Linked DNA regions of Homo sapiens: region 2 is linked to region 1. Evidence: fine-mapped expression QTL. A gene starts in region 1. The other region holds a variant in brackets. All regions are shown on one strand. Distances are from middle to middle.

Region 1 (5,367 bases):
CGGGGATCAAGCAGTGCGAAGGCCCCGTTCTTGCGGAAGAATGACTCAATGCGGCACATCTTGCAGGAGACCAGTTCTTGCTTCACTGGGGGGCCTGGGAAAAGATGTCAGAGGCCAAGCATGGGTTCCTGAGGGAGGGACACGCAGAGCATGGGAGCCCTGTCTGTCTGCACAGCCCTAGGAATCCGTCAGTGGAGTAGCCACTTTGTGGGAAGAAATAGAAAGTGCTTTGGAGGAATGGGAGCTATGGGCAAATACTGGGAGCTGGCTGGATGCCAGGATACAGCAGCCATCTGCCATCATTACCCTAGCTTCAGGATCCTCTACCTGCAGGGAGGGGGGCCACCCTAGCCTGCTTGTCACAGGGACAGACTGTGGAGAGATGAGATTTCCTTCGGCCTCCTGCTCCCCGCTTCTAGGGCTCGCCTCCTGCTTTTGTTAGAAAGTTATTTCCCTGACTTCCCCTTTAGGGGCCTGGGGGAAAGGGATGTTTGGGGGCAAAATCTCAACTGAGTCAATCCCCAACCATCCACCTTTTCTGCAAGACACTCAAGCAGCTGGAGAAGGGTACAGGGCTGAGGAGTCTCACTTGACATTCATGAGCACAGACAGCAATGGGACGTGCAGCAACATCGCCCAGCAGCCCTGCCTGGCACATGCCTGTTCCACACCTTTCCTCTTCATCTCTAGTTACTCCACTGCCTCAGCTCAGCTCCCTCCCCGCTGATGGCCTTGACTCAACCTCACAGAAAAAAGACTCAGCCGAGATGGACAGGCTTCCTGCCAATGACATCCCCTACCCGCTCTGGCTCAGCCCTCCTGCCCCCACTCCCATCAGATTCCAGCAACTTGAGCTCCCTAGGAGATCTCATGGATTTAAATAGCACCTATAGGCCAGCCGGTGGCTCATGCCTGTAATCCCAGAACTTTGGGAGGCCGAGACAGGCAGATTACGAGGTCAGCAGTTCGAGACCAGCCTGGCCAATATGGTGAAACCCTGTCTCTACTAAAAAAACAAAAATTAGCTGGGCGTGGTGACACACGCCTGCAGTCCCAGCTACTCGGGAGGCTGAGGCAGAAGAATCTCTTGAACCTGGGAGGCAGAGGTTGCAGTGAGCCAAGATCGTGCCACTGCATTCCAGCCTGGGTGACAGAGTCAGACTGTTTCAAAAAGAAAAAGAAAAAAAAAAAGCACCTATATTCCAATGACCTCCGAATTTGCATCTTCAGCTCTGACTTCAATCCAGACTTATAGACACAGCCACCCTACAGACACTTCAAGCATAACATAGCCAAACACACATGGCTAAATAGGACCTGTTCATGCACGCTCCAGCCCTGACCTCTCCCAGTCTTCCCTGTCACTGCAGCTTTAGCTAAACAAACACCTGGGTGATTGATCTCTCTTCCCCTTATTCTCACATTCTATCCATGGGTGAGTTCCACCGAGTCTTCCCCCAAAACATCCTGAATTGATTTCAGCTCTATTGCTGATCCCTCAGGCCACTACCACAGGATAACCAAACAGATGCCCAACTCATGTGCCAGATTCTACCATTTCCCCTGAAAAAGCCACTGCCTACATACAGGTCAGGGTGACTTTTTAAAAGGTTCACCAGTGTCACTCTTGAAATCTGCTTAGAACCCTCCATCAGCTTCCCTGCACAACAAATAAAATCCAAACCCATCCTTATCATCTGGCTCTCAGCCTCGGGTCCTCAGAAAGGCCTTTCCTGACAATCCAATAAATAGCAGCACGTGGCCGCTGCCTCCCTGCCCACCGCCACTCCCTAGTTCTGTGGAACGTGTCGACACTTCTTGGCCATCTCCTTGCTCTGTTTATAGTCTGGACCCTTCACCAGGATGCCCACTCCCTAGCACATGGCTAGTGCTCTGTTTTTGAGGTGATTTCCAAGAGGTTGGGCTCACCCAGCTGCCAGCCATACGTGAAGCTGGTGGTGATGGGGAAGAGGTATCGCGTCTCTGGCATGTCCAGTTTTCGAGTGTTGAGGTAGCGGTACCGCCCCTGGAAGTCGTGGGAGATGCCTTCATACAGCAGGGCTCGGGTGATAGGTGGTACCGGGTACATTTCCGACTGAAAAGGCGCCTCTGGGACAGGGCTGGGCACCTTGGAAGGGGCTGACTTGGGGGCGGGTGGGGGTGAGAGTGGGGCTTTGGGGTGCAGGGTGGGCAGTTTGAGGGGCAGGCGGGCTGCAGCCTTAGCCTTCTGCTTGGCCTTCACCATCGACCCATACTTGCGGTACCATTCACAGCGCAACATCTTTTCCCTCAGATATTCCTCCTTCCAGAAGTTCTGCCGTAACGCGTCTATGTTGAGCTGCCGTGACATGGTGGCCAGGGAAGGAGTGGCACCAGGGTGGCCACAGCTGAGGGGTGAGCACAGCAAGCAGAGTGCTTCTGACGGCGAGTGGCTGCCCAGGCACAGTCACCTGGCAACCATGCCTCACCTCACACAGGGCCAGGGTTCTACTTGCCATGCCCCCAGCAGACCCCATGAGCCTGGCTTCCTGAGGCAGCCTGAGGCCAGGGCCCACTGGTTAAGAGCCCTGCTCCCCCCAAAACTCCCGCAGGGCCCTCGCGGGATCTGGCATCACAGACTCCCAGGTTTCGTGTGCTTTCTGCTTCTGTCCTTTGGATCTGGCCCCCTTCCCAGCCCAATGCCGAGCAAGGTGGGGGAAGCAGGAGCTGGGCTCAAGCCTCCTCCCATTCCTCCCCAGACCAGAGCTGGTCTTCTCTGATCCAAGGACCAGTCCTTGAGTTCTGCCTCCCGGCACAATCCTCCTGGGCCACCTCTTCTATGCCTGTCTTTGGCAGCACCTTTTCCATCCTTGCCAACCGAATCTGCCCCATGGCCTCACCCCACACATGTCCTTTCCAGCACCCAACCCATCTGGAGAGAAGCAAGAATATGACTTTAATTTAACATCAACAATGACACTGTGTAACAGCACAGGGAAGAGGTAGTGGAGGGAGATGGTCAGGCTTCCTGTTCCTTAACCAGCAGAGCCCCAGCAACCTAGAAGCGCCTCACCTAGCCTCTTAATGGAGTGGGAAGGAGCAGGGAATTGGAAATCAGAGGCTCAAAAAGTAAAGAAGGCTGATGGCAAGCCTGGGGAGAGGCCTGGAAACGAGGGAAGGGCTGAGGGCTATGAGGAGTCCCCTAGCGCAGGTCTTCGGCAGTGAACATGCCCCTGGCCCTGCGCAGGATGGAGTCCTTGGCGGCGTCATATGGGTGCTCCTTGGAGGGGATCTCCAGGACAGCGGGGATGGACTGCTGGTGGGCGTCCAGGGCATGCCGCACCATCTCTGCGATGTACTGGTTGATGAGGATGATGCCAATGTCATCCCGGTTTAGAAATTGCCTGTGGGGAGAGATGAGAAGGGAGTCCAGGACAGCTCTGGGGGCTGCCGTCTCTCCTACCCAGGCAGCCCTCTCCGAGTTGTTGGGCTGGGCTGTGGAGGGGAATGAGCATGACCCAGAGGGCACAGAGGACAAGGGGAAAGGCTGCCACGCTCAACCCTCTGTCAACCCTACCTAGAATCAATTTCATCCCAAAGCGGAGGGTCACGCTGATTAGGGTTGGCTTCTACAACACTGCCCGGAAGGCTTCCAAGTGAACTGGTAATGAAGATTGATTAGGGTGCACACTGGTGTATTCAATATGCAGTGATGTGTCAGAAAGGGGAAGGATAAGATTATATGTATGCAGATCCCTTTTTATGTGCAGATACTGAAGGCCAGCTGTGATGGCTCACGCCTGTAATCCCAGCACTTTGGGAGGCCGAGGCAGGTGGATTGCTTGAACCCAGGAGTTTGAGACCAGAATGGGCCACATAGTGAGACCCCCATCTCCCTCTCTCTCTCTCTCTCTCTCTATCTATATATACACACACAAAAAAATGGCTGGATGTGGCGGATCTATCTATCTATCTATATATATACACACAAAAAAAAAATGGCTGGATGTGGCGGCATGTGCCAGCTACTTGGGAAGCTGTAGTCCTAGCTATTTAGGAAGCTGAGGTGGGAGAATCACTTGAGCCTGGGAAGTCGAGGCCGCAGTGAGCTGCGATCACGCCACTGCAATCCAGCCTGGGTGACAGGAGTGAGACCCTGTCTCAGAAAAAAAAAAAAAAAAAGACACATTAACTTTTAAAAAGAAAACAAATTATTTAAAAATAGGGCTGATGAGACCACTGAAGGCCTCAAGGTCTATCCTGATGAGGGTGGTGGAGGGGTCAGAGGGAAAGTTTGGCATGAACTAAGATCACAAGCTAGGAAGAGGACACCTTGATGAAGGAATCACACTTTCTGCACAAAAAGAACCTGGCCTTGTGCTCCTTCTCTCCTGTGGTCACCCACCCATTCATTTGTTTATTTTATTTTTATTTTTTTGAGACAGGGTCTCCCTCTGTCACCCAGGCTGGAGTGCAGTGGTGGATCTCGGCTCACTGCAGTCTCCACCTCCCAGGTTCAAACAATTCTCCTTCCTCAGCCTCCTGATTTCTTGGGATTACAGGCACCCGCCACCACGCCTGGCTAATTTTTGTATTTTTAGTAGAAATGGGGTTTCACCATATTGGTCAGGCTAGTCTCAAACTCCCGAGCTCAGGTGATCCACCCGCCTCGGCCTCCAAAACTGTTGGGATTACAGGCGTGAGCCACTGCACCCAGACTCATTCGTTTATTTACTGATTAAAAATTACTTACTGAGCACCCACCCCCTGCCAGTCACTGGGTTAGATTTGATCTCTGAGGTCCCTTTTGGTTGGAAACATAAAAAATTCTTGAAGTAAAATTTGTCCTTCTCCCATGATAACTTGGGTCACTTTACCAGACAGCTTAGAGAATGGCAGATAACAGCCTCCCAGGTCAGGGACTACCTAATACACCAGGCAGCAGGAACCAGTCTCAGCCAGCAGCCCTGGGCTGGACTGTTTGGGGGAAACAGGTGAGTGGTTTATTCCTGAGACTTGGTACAGGGGCCCTGGAGAAGGGGTGAGGAATAAAATAGGAGGCTGGTATCCTTAATTCCAGTCACCAGGACCCCTGGTGGATTAAAAGCATGCCTGCACCCACACTCTGACCTAAGGCAGGCAGTGAGGGCTTGAGTGCAAGGTCTTAGCAGAAGGCTCTCACAGTCCCGACATTTCTGCCTACTGTGCTCAAGACTACAAGGAAATTCCGAGGCCGCCTGAGGAGACCTGCCAAGAGTGTGTACCTGGCTTACCGGAGGCAGAAAGGGTTGAGATTGGGTTCAAATTCTAGCTCTGCCTCTGCCGACTCGTAACTTTAGTGTGTGCCTTACCCTCTCCGAGCTTTAGTTTTCTCACCTGTGAGTAGGA
Region 2 (5,367 bases), 51 kb before region 1:
CAGATGCTTATTCCAAGCCTGACATTTGTGTGGACCTGAGCCCAGTGCTCATGTGGTTCCCTTTACCAGGAGTCTCATTTCCCAGAAGGTTCTGGGCAGGACCCTGTCTCATTCACCACTGTACCCCTGCATCGAGCACAGTGCCTGGCACCCAAAAAAGAGGCACACAGTGATCATACTCAACTGTGGAACTCAAGTGCCTTGCAAATAACACCCTTTCCTCAGGGCCCTGGGCTTTCACTTTATAGGGTGAGTTTTCCAGAAGCTTCTTTACCTTCTGTTGCAGATTTTTAAAAAATGTTAACATTGACTTTTCGGTTTGGACCTCAGAGGGAGATGATGATTATGACAATGAAAATAATAACAGATTGTGGTGCTTAAAATGTGCTGGGCACTGTAAAAAGTTTTCTGTGTGTATTATCCTACTTAACACCTGTGCTGGCCATCTCTTATGCAAATCCTCTCAGCTGTACCTCATTCCAGTTGTACACAGTTTGCAAGCAGCTCCACACAGTGCACCCTGACAGCGTCTCTCCTGAGGTCCTGGCTGCAAATCTACCTCTCTCATTTTGGAATTTCTCTGATGCACAGCATTGGATACCCTCGGGAACCCATGTGGGCACTGGCTCATGCATAACTGGGAGCAAGCTAATGCCCTGGGGGCCTCCCAGTGCCGATGGCTTCTACTGCCTGCCTGCCTTTCACATGGCTCCCCAGGTCCTGCAGGACCGGATGCTGATGCCCACCGCAGTGGTCGGCTCCATTGCATAATGCACCCTTGTATTGGCTCTCCATCCTTCCCAGTTTCACACTTCCAATCCTCCCTCCTGCTCCTGGGGATCATATTCCAAAATCAGCCTGCATGCAAGCCTTTGTCTCAGGCTCTGATTTCCAGGAACCCAGGCTAAGACAATCGTTTTTTATTTGTTTGTTTGTTGTTGTTTTTGTTTTGTTTTGTTTTTGAGACAGTCTCACTCTGTCACCCAGGCTGGAGTGTAGTGGCACTAATCTCGGCTCACTGCAACCTCCATCTTCTGGGTTCAAGTGATTCTCCTGCCTCAGCCTCCCAAGTAGCTGGGATTACAGGTGCCCGCCACCACACCCGGCTACTTTTTGTATTTTTAATAGAGACAGAGTTTCGCCATGTTGGCCAGGTTGGTCTCGAACTCCTGACTTCAGGTGATCCACCCACCACAGCTTCCCAAAGTGCTGGGATTACAGGCATGAGCCATCACACCCAGTCTGACAATCCTTAACGAGAGCAAAGACAGAAGTGCTCTTATTACCCCTGTTTCGTAGGGGAGGACCTGAGACTTAGGTTCAATAACTTGCCAAGATCATATGGCAAGTAAGGGGCAGAACCATTGGAAGGTTAAAAAAAAAATGCTCCTCTCAGGGAGGGGGAGAACGATTTGCCAAGAGATTGTAGGAGGATTTCTGGCAATGTCCAGTGCTCATTGATATTTGTGGCCACGAGTCTGCCATGGAAGCAATGGAGTGGTGAGATGCTGTCCAGCAATATTCAGGGGCTCTGACAGAGGCATGAAGAGGGCAGGTGGGGGTGCTGGGGTGTGGGACTGGGCAGAGCAGGGGGTGAGCTGGGCAAGAAGCAGCTGAGAGTCACAGTGACCAGGGATGGCGAGGAGGCTAGGACTTCTCATGACGATAACATTTCTAGGGAGAACACCTAGTAGGTCGTGCCAAGGATAGGGCCAGGCTACTTGGCTGGAGGTCAGTGTGGACAGGCCTGGCCAGGCCCCAGGATCCTAAGGACCTCAAATTGATTCCATTCTCTACAGCTTATTCCCACTGTGACTCTGAGCTTATGCTAAAAAATTGTGCTGTTTATTTGAAATTCAAATTTAACAGGACATTCTGCATTTTTATTTGCTAAATCTGGCAACCCTATCCCGCCATGAGCCAGTAACACCTCCCTGCATAGCCATGACCTCCTCTTCCTCCCAGCTCTCTTCATGTCCCTGGCACCACTGCTATCCTAGTGTCCCAAGCTCGGCCTCCACTATTCCAGGGGATCCAGCCAGTCACCGGCTCCTGCCCGTCCTTTAGAAACATCCCCCTTTCTCCAGCCCACTGCCATCCCTGGCTCCATGCCTAGACAACTGCTGTCACAGCCCCGACGCCTCTGTCTGCATCTAGCCCCCACCAGGTGAATATTCCTCAAGCGCCCCCTTGACCATGCCACAGGCTGCTTCAGCCTTCAATACCCCCCACTGCCCATAGAAAAAAGTCCTAATTGCAAGGCTTACAGCAGCCTGTTCCCACTGGCCTTCCCACATGGACTTCCTGCAACCCACCTCTCTCCACCCTGTCCTTGTGCCCAGAGGACCCTCACGTACTCCTTCTCCTTCAGGTGGAACCCCACTTTCCCATGAAGACCCAGCTCAAAGGACCCATTGTCTGTAAAGGCCCCCTGACTGCCCAGCCTCGACGGGCTTCCCCTGCCTCCTGTGCCCTCCTCTGGCAAAATACACACTGCACTGCCTTCTACACCTCCTCTTAATCTGCTCATTGGGTCTTCAATCTTGTGGTAGCTTGGCTATGAGCTTATCTTCTCAACTAGATTGGAGGCTCCCTGAGGGCAGGAAAAAGATTTTGTGCCTGTTTCCCCATGGTCTCTGGCTCAGTCCCAGGCCAGAGCCAGTATCTGCTGACTTGTGTATGGGTTCTGCACTCCCCTGGCCACTGTCAGGAGTGAGTGGGTAGGCACCCCTGGGCATGTCCCAGGCTCGCTGACTCTCAGGTGGCAGGCCGTGGCTGTGG[A/G]CATGCAGGAGATGGGGCTGAGGCTGGCAGGAGGCTGACCTGGCTCACAGTGCAGGCAGCATGCTCCTGGCTCAGGGCAGGGTCCTCTTGGGCATGGCTTCTGGTTGCAAGTGATGGTCCCTTCCTGTGGGAGCAGACTGAGGTGGCTGCACAGGCATCAGAGCCCTGGAGGGCAGGGCCTCTGGAAGCAAAACCTCAGCCCAGGCGGGGACATGTCATAGGGGCAAGAGGATGAGTTGGCTCTGTGGATGTGGGCTACCCTCTGTGTAAAGGCAGAAAAGAGACATCCTGCCCCAACCCGAGTCGTCTCTTGATGTTTTTTGTTTTGTTTTGTTTGAGACAGGTTCTCAATGTATTGCCCAGGCTAGAATACAGTGGCTCCATCATGGCTCACTGCAGTCTCGACCTCCCCATCTCAAGTGATCCTCCCGCCTCAGCCTCCAGAGTAGCTTGGGACTGCAGGCGCTCACCATGACGCCTGGCTAATTTCTTTTTATTATTTTTGTAGGGACTGGGTCTCCTTATGTTGCCCATGCTGGTCAGCTTCTGGACTCAAGCAATCCTCCTGCCTGGCCTTCCCAAAGTGCTGAGATTACAGGCGCAAGCCACCACCTGGCATCCTAATGCTCTTGACCCGGGAAACCATCTCTTTCAGGTGCCAGAGCTCAACGATAGCATGGACTGGGGAAGACCTGCGGACCCTTCAGAGCTGGGGGGAGTCGGGGGGCGGGGCGCGGAGCGGAATTTGAGGTTATGGAATTACTATTTCCCTGTTCCAGACTGCCGAAGAAGCCCAGTGGTCGTCTAGGCCACCGCGCTATCTGTCTGGCGTCTCCTTACAGGCCCTGGGCCTGGCCCAATGCTCCCTCCAGGTCAGTAGTCACCGGTAAGTGCCAGCCTCCTCGAGTGGTCCCTCCGGTCGGGGCCGGCGCGGTGCAGAAGAACCCAGCGCAGCCCGGGCAGAGTCAGCTCGGCCCCGCCGCCCCACCAGTGCTCAAGGGCGCAGCCACGCAGGAGCATCGCAGACAGGTGGGTCCCGGCCGCCGCTCTCTCCTCTCCGCGTCCCCGCGTCCCCGCGTCCCCGCGTCCGGAAGGTGGTGGGAGCGGTACCGGCTGTTGCCCACCCACAAGTCTAGGCCTCAACCAGGGCCCGCGCCCCTCAGGCACCTGCGGGCGACCGGATGAAGACTGGAGTAGGGCGGGGTCCGCGTCCAGCTGCGCCTGGAGACCGAGCTTCGGTGGGTGCCTACAGCAGGGCGCGCCCCGCCGGCCTGGGACCTCCCAGGCGCCCCTCACGCCCCGATCCGTTTGAGGTGCTGGCGCCCAGGGAACCCCAAGGCCCAGGCGGCGAGGTCGGCACCGCAGCTGGGGGCGCAGGCTCTGCTGCTCCCACCCCCCCACCCCCACCCCGCCATCGCCCAGAATGGGGGCTCCCAGGCGCCCTGCTGGAGGCTGGCTTGGTCCACAGAGGAGCGAGGCCCGATCCTTACTTTCGATGCACTCGCCCTCGCTCTTCCCGGGTCACCCTAACCCTTTCGGAAAAAAAGGTGGAGGTTTAAAGCGTTCATCCCCCGGGATCTTCAGGCCAATGGCAGGAATTGTGCAAGAGTTTGGGGGAAGATAGTGTCAGGTAGAGGCTCCGTCCGTCCCTGGGCTCGCGGCCGGGAATGGTAGACGCCGGCCCCCAGAGCAGCGGAGAAGGATGGGGCGCAATAGTTCCTGGGCTGGTTTCTGTAGGTCTTGTCCCAGAACTTAAGAAGGCAACAATGAAGAGGCTGAACGTGGAGGAAAAGTGAGACTAGCATGGCTGGGATTTGGAGGAAGATGGCGAGGACCAGCGCTGGCCTTGAGCGGTTGTCTCCGGACCCGGGAGGGCGGGAGCAGGTGCCCGGGAGCAGAGGCGGGAGTGGGGGACTTTCCCCAGCCTCGCGGCCCCGCTGGACACAGCAGGGCGAGGACCGGGGTGCTGCTCTAGCAGCCGAGGAGCGTCCCTGGGGGTGAGGGTGGCTCCACGGGCTGGCCCAGGGGGTGTGCCCCCGCGGAGCCAGCGGGAGGGGTGGGGGCGGAGGGGAGGGGGGAGGGGGGCGGAGGGGAAGCGGGGAGCGGGGGCAGAGGACTGGAGTGGGCCTGGGCCCCCGTGGACCCAGTCCCCAGGGCCTGAAAGTGCACCGGCTGTGTCCACAGAGAAAACTGTCAAGACCTCCCCTCCCCCTACCTCCATCCTCCCCCTACCCCGTAGCTGTCGGGCCTGGGGCTGGGGCTGAGGGGATCCAAGAGTCTAGGGAGTCACTGGGAAATCACCCCCTTTCATCTGAAGGCCCTACTTGGGGGTTTTCCCCCTGTACCCTGGTCTTCCCCCACCTTGCCTCTCGGAGGAAGCCGAAAGAAGCTTCTTTCTGGGCACCTGCTGCCCCAGAGCCTCAGCCTGTTTGGACCAGGCAAGCAGCAGGGCCTGGGGTGTGGACAGCTCACCTGGAGGGGTGGGATTTAGGATCAGGCCCAATGCAGCAAAACCTTTGTCCTCTCCCTGAGCTGGGTGTGGGTTTGCAAGGAGACATGCGACCCAGAACAACCCTGGAGGCAGCA

Direction of the effects. Alleles are on the strand shown, and positions count from the first base shown. SD is a standard deviation of normalised expression in the study named.
For the expression in visceral fat of the gene that starts at base 2,430 in region 1, G is the low allele of the variant in region 2 and A is the other (small effect, 0.39 SD a copy in GTEx).

Evidence for each region. PIP is the estimated chance that this variant, and not a neighbour inherited with it, causes the effect. A credible set is the group of variants that fine-mapping cannot tell apart.
Region 2: its variant is the best candidate, but not a certain one, in a credible set for the expression of SPMIP1 in visceral fat (GTEx, PIP 0.85).

What each region holds. Positions count from the first base shown.
Region 1 is chr7:128,863,393-128,868,759 of GRCh38, reverse strand. SPMIP1 (sperm microtubule inner protein 1) reads right to left here and starts at 2,430. Exons shown (of 2, transcript NM_001195150.3): 1 at 1,930-2,430; 2 at 1-94. The coding sequence starts at 2,350. It overlaps ATP6V1F (ATPase H+ transporting V1 subunit F), which reads right to left. Exons shown (of 2, transcript NM_004231.4): 2 at 2,913-3,383. The coding sequence ends at 3,182.
Region 2 is chr7:128,914,731-128,920,097 of GRCh38, reverse strand. No RefSeq gene overlaps it. Among named protein-coding and RNA genes, the nearest start is that of KCP, 6.7 kb to the right of the region's middle. The variant A/G (reference allele first, on the strand shown) is at 2,782.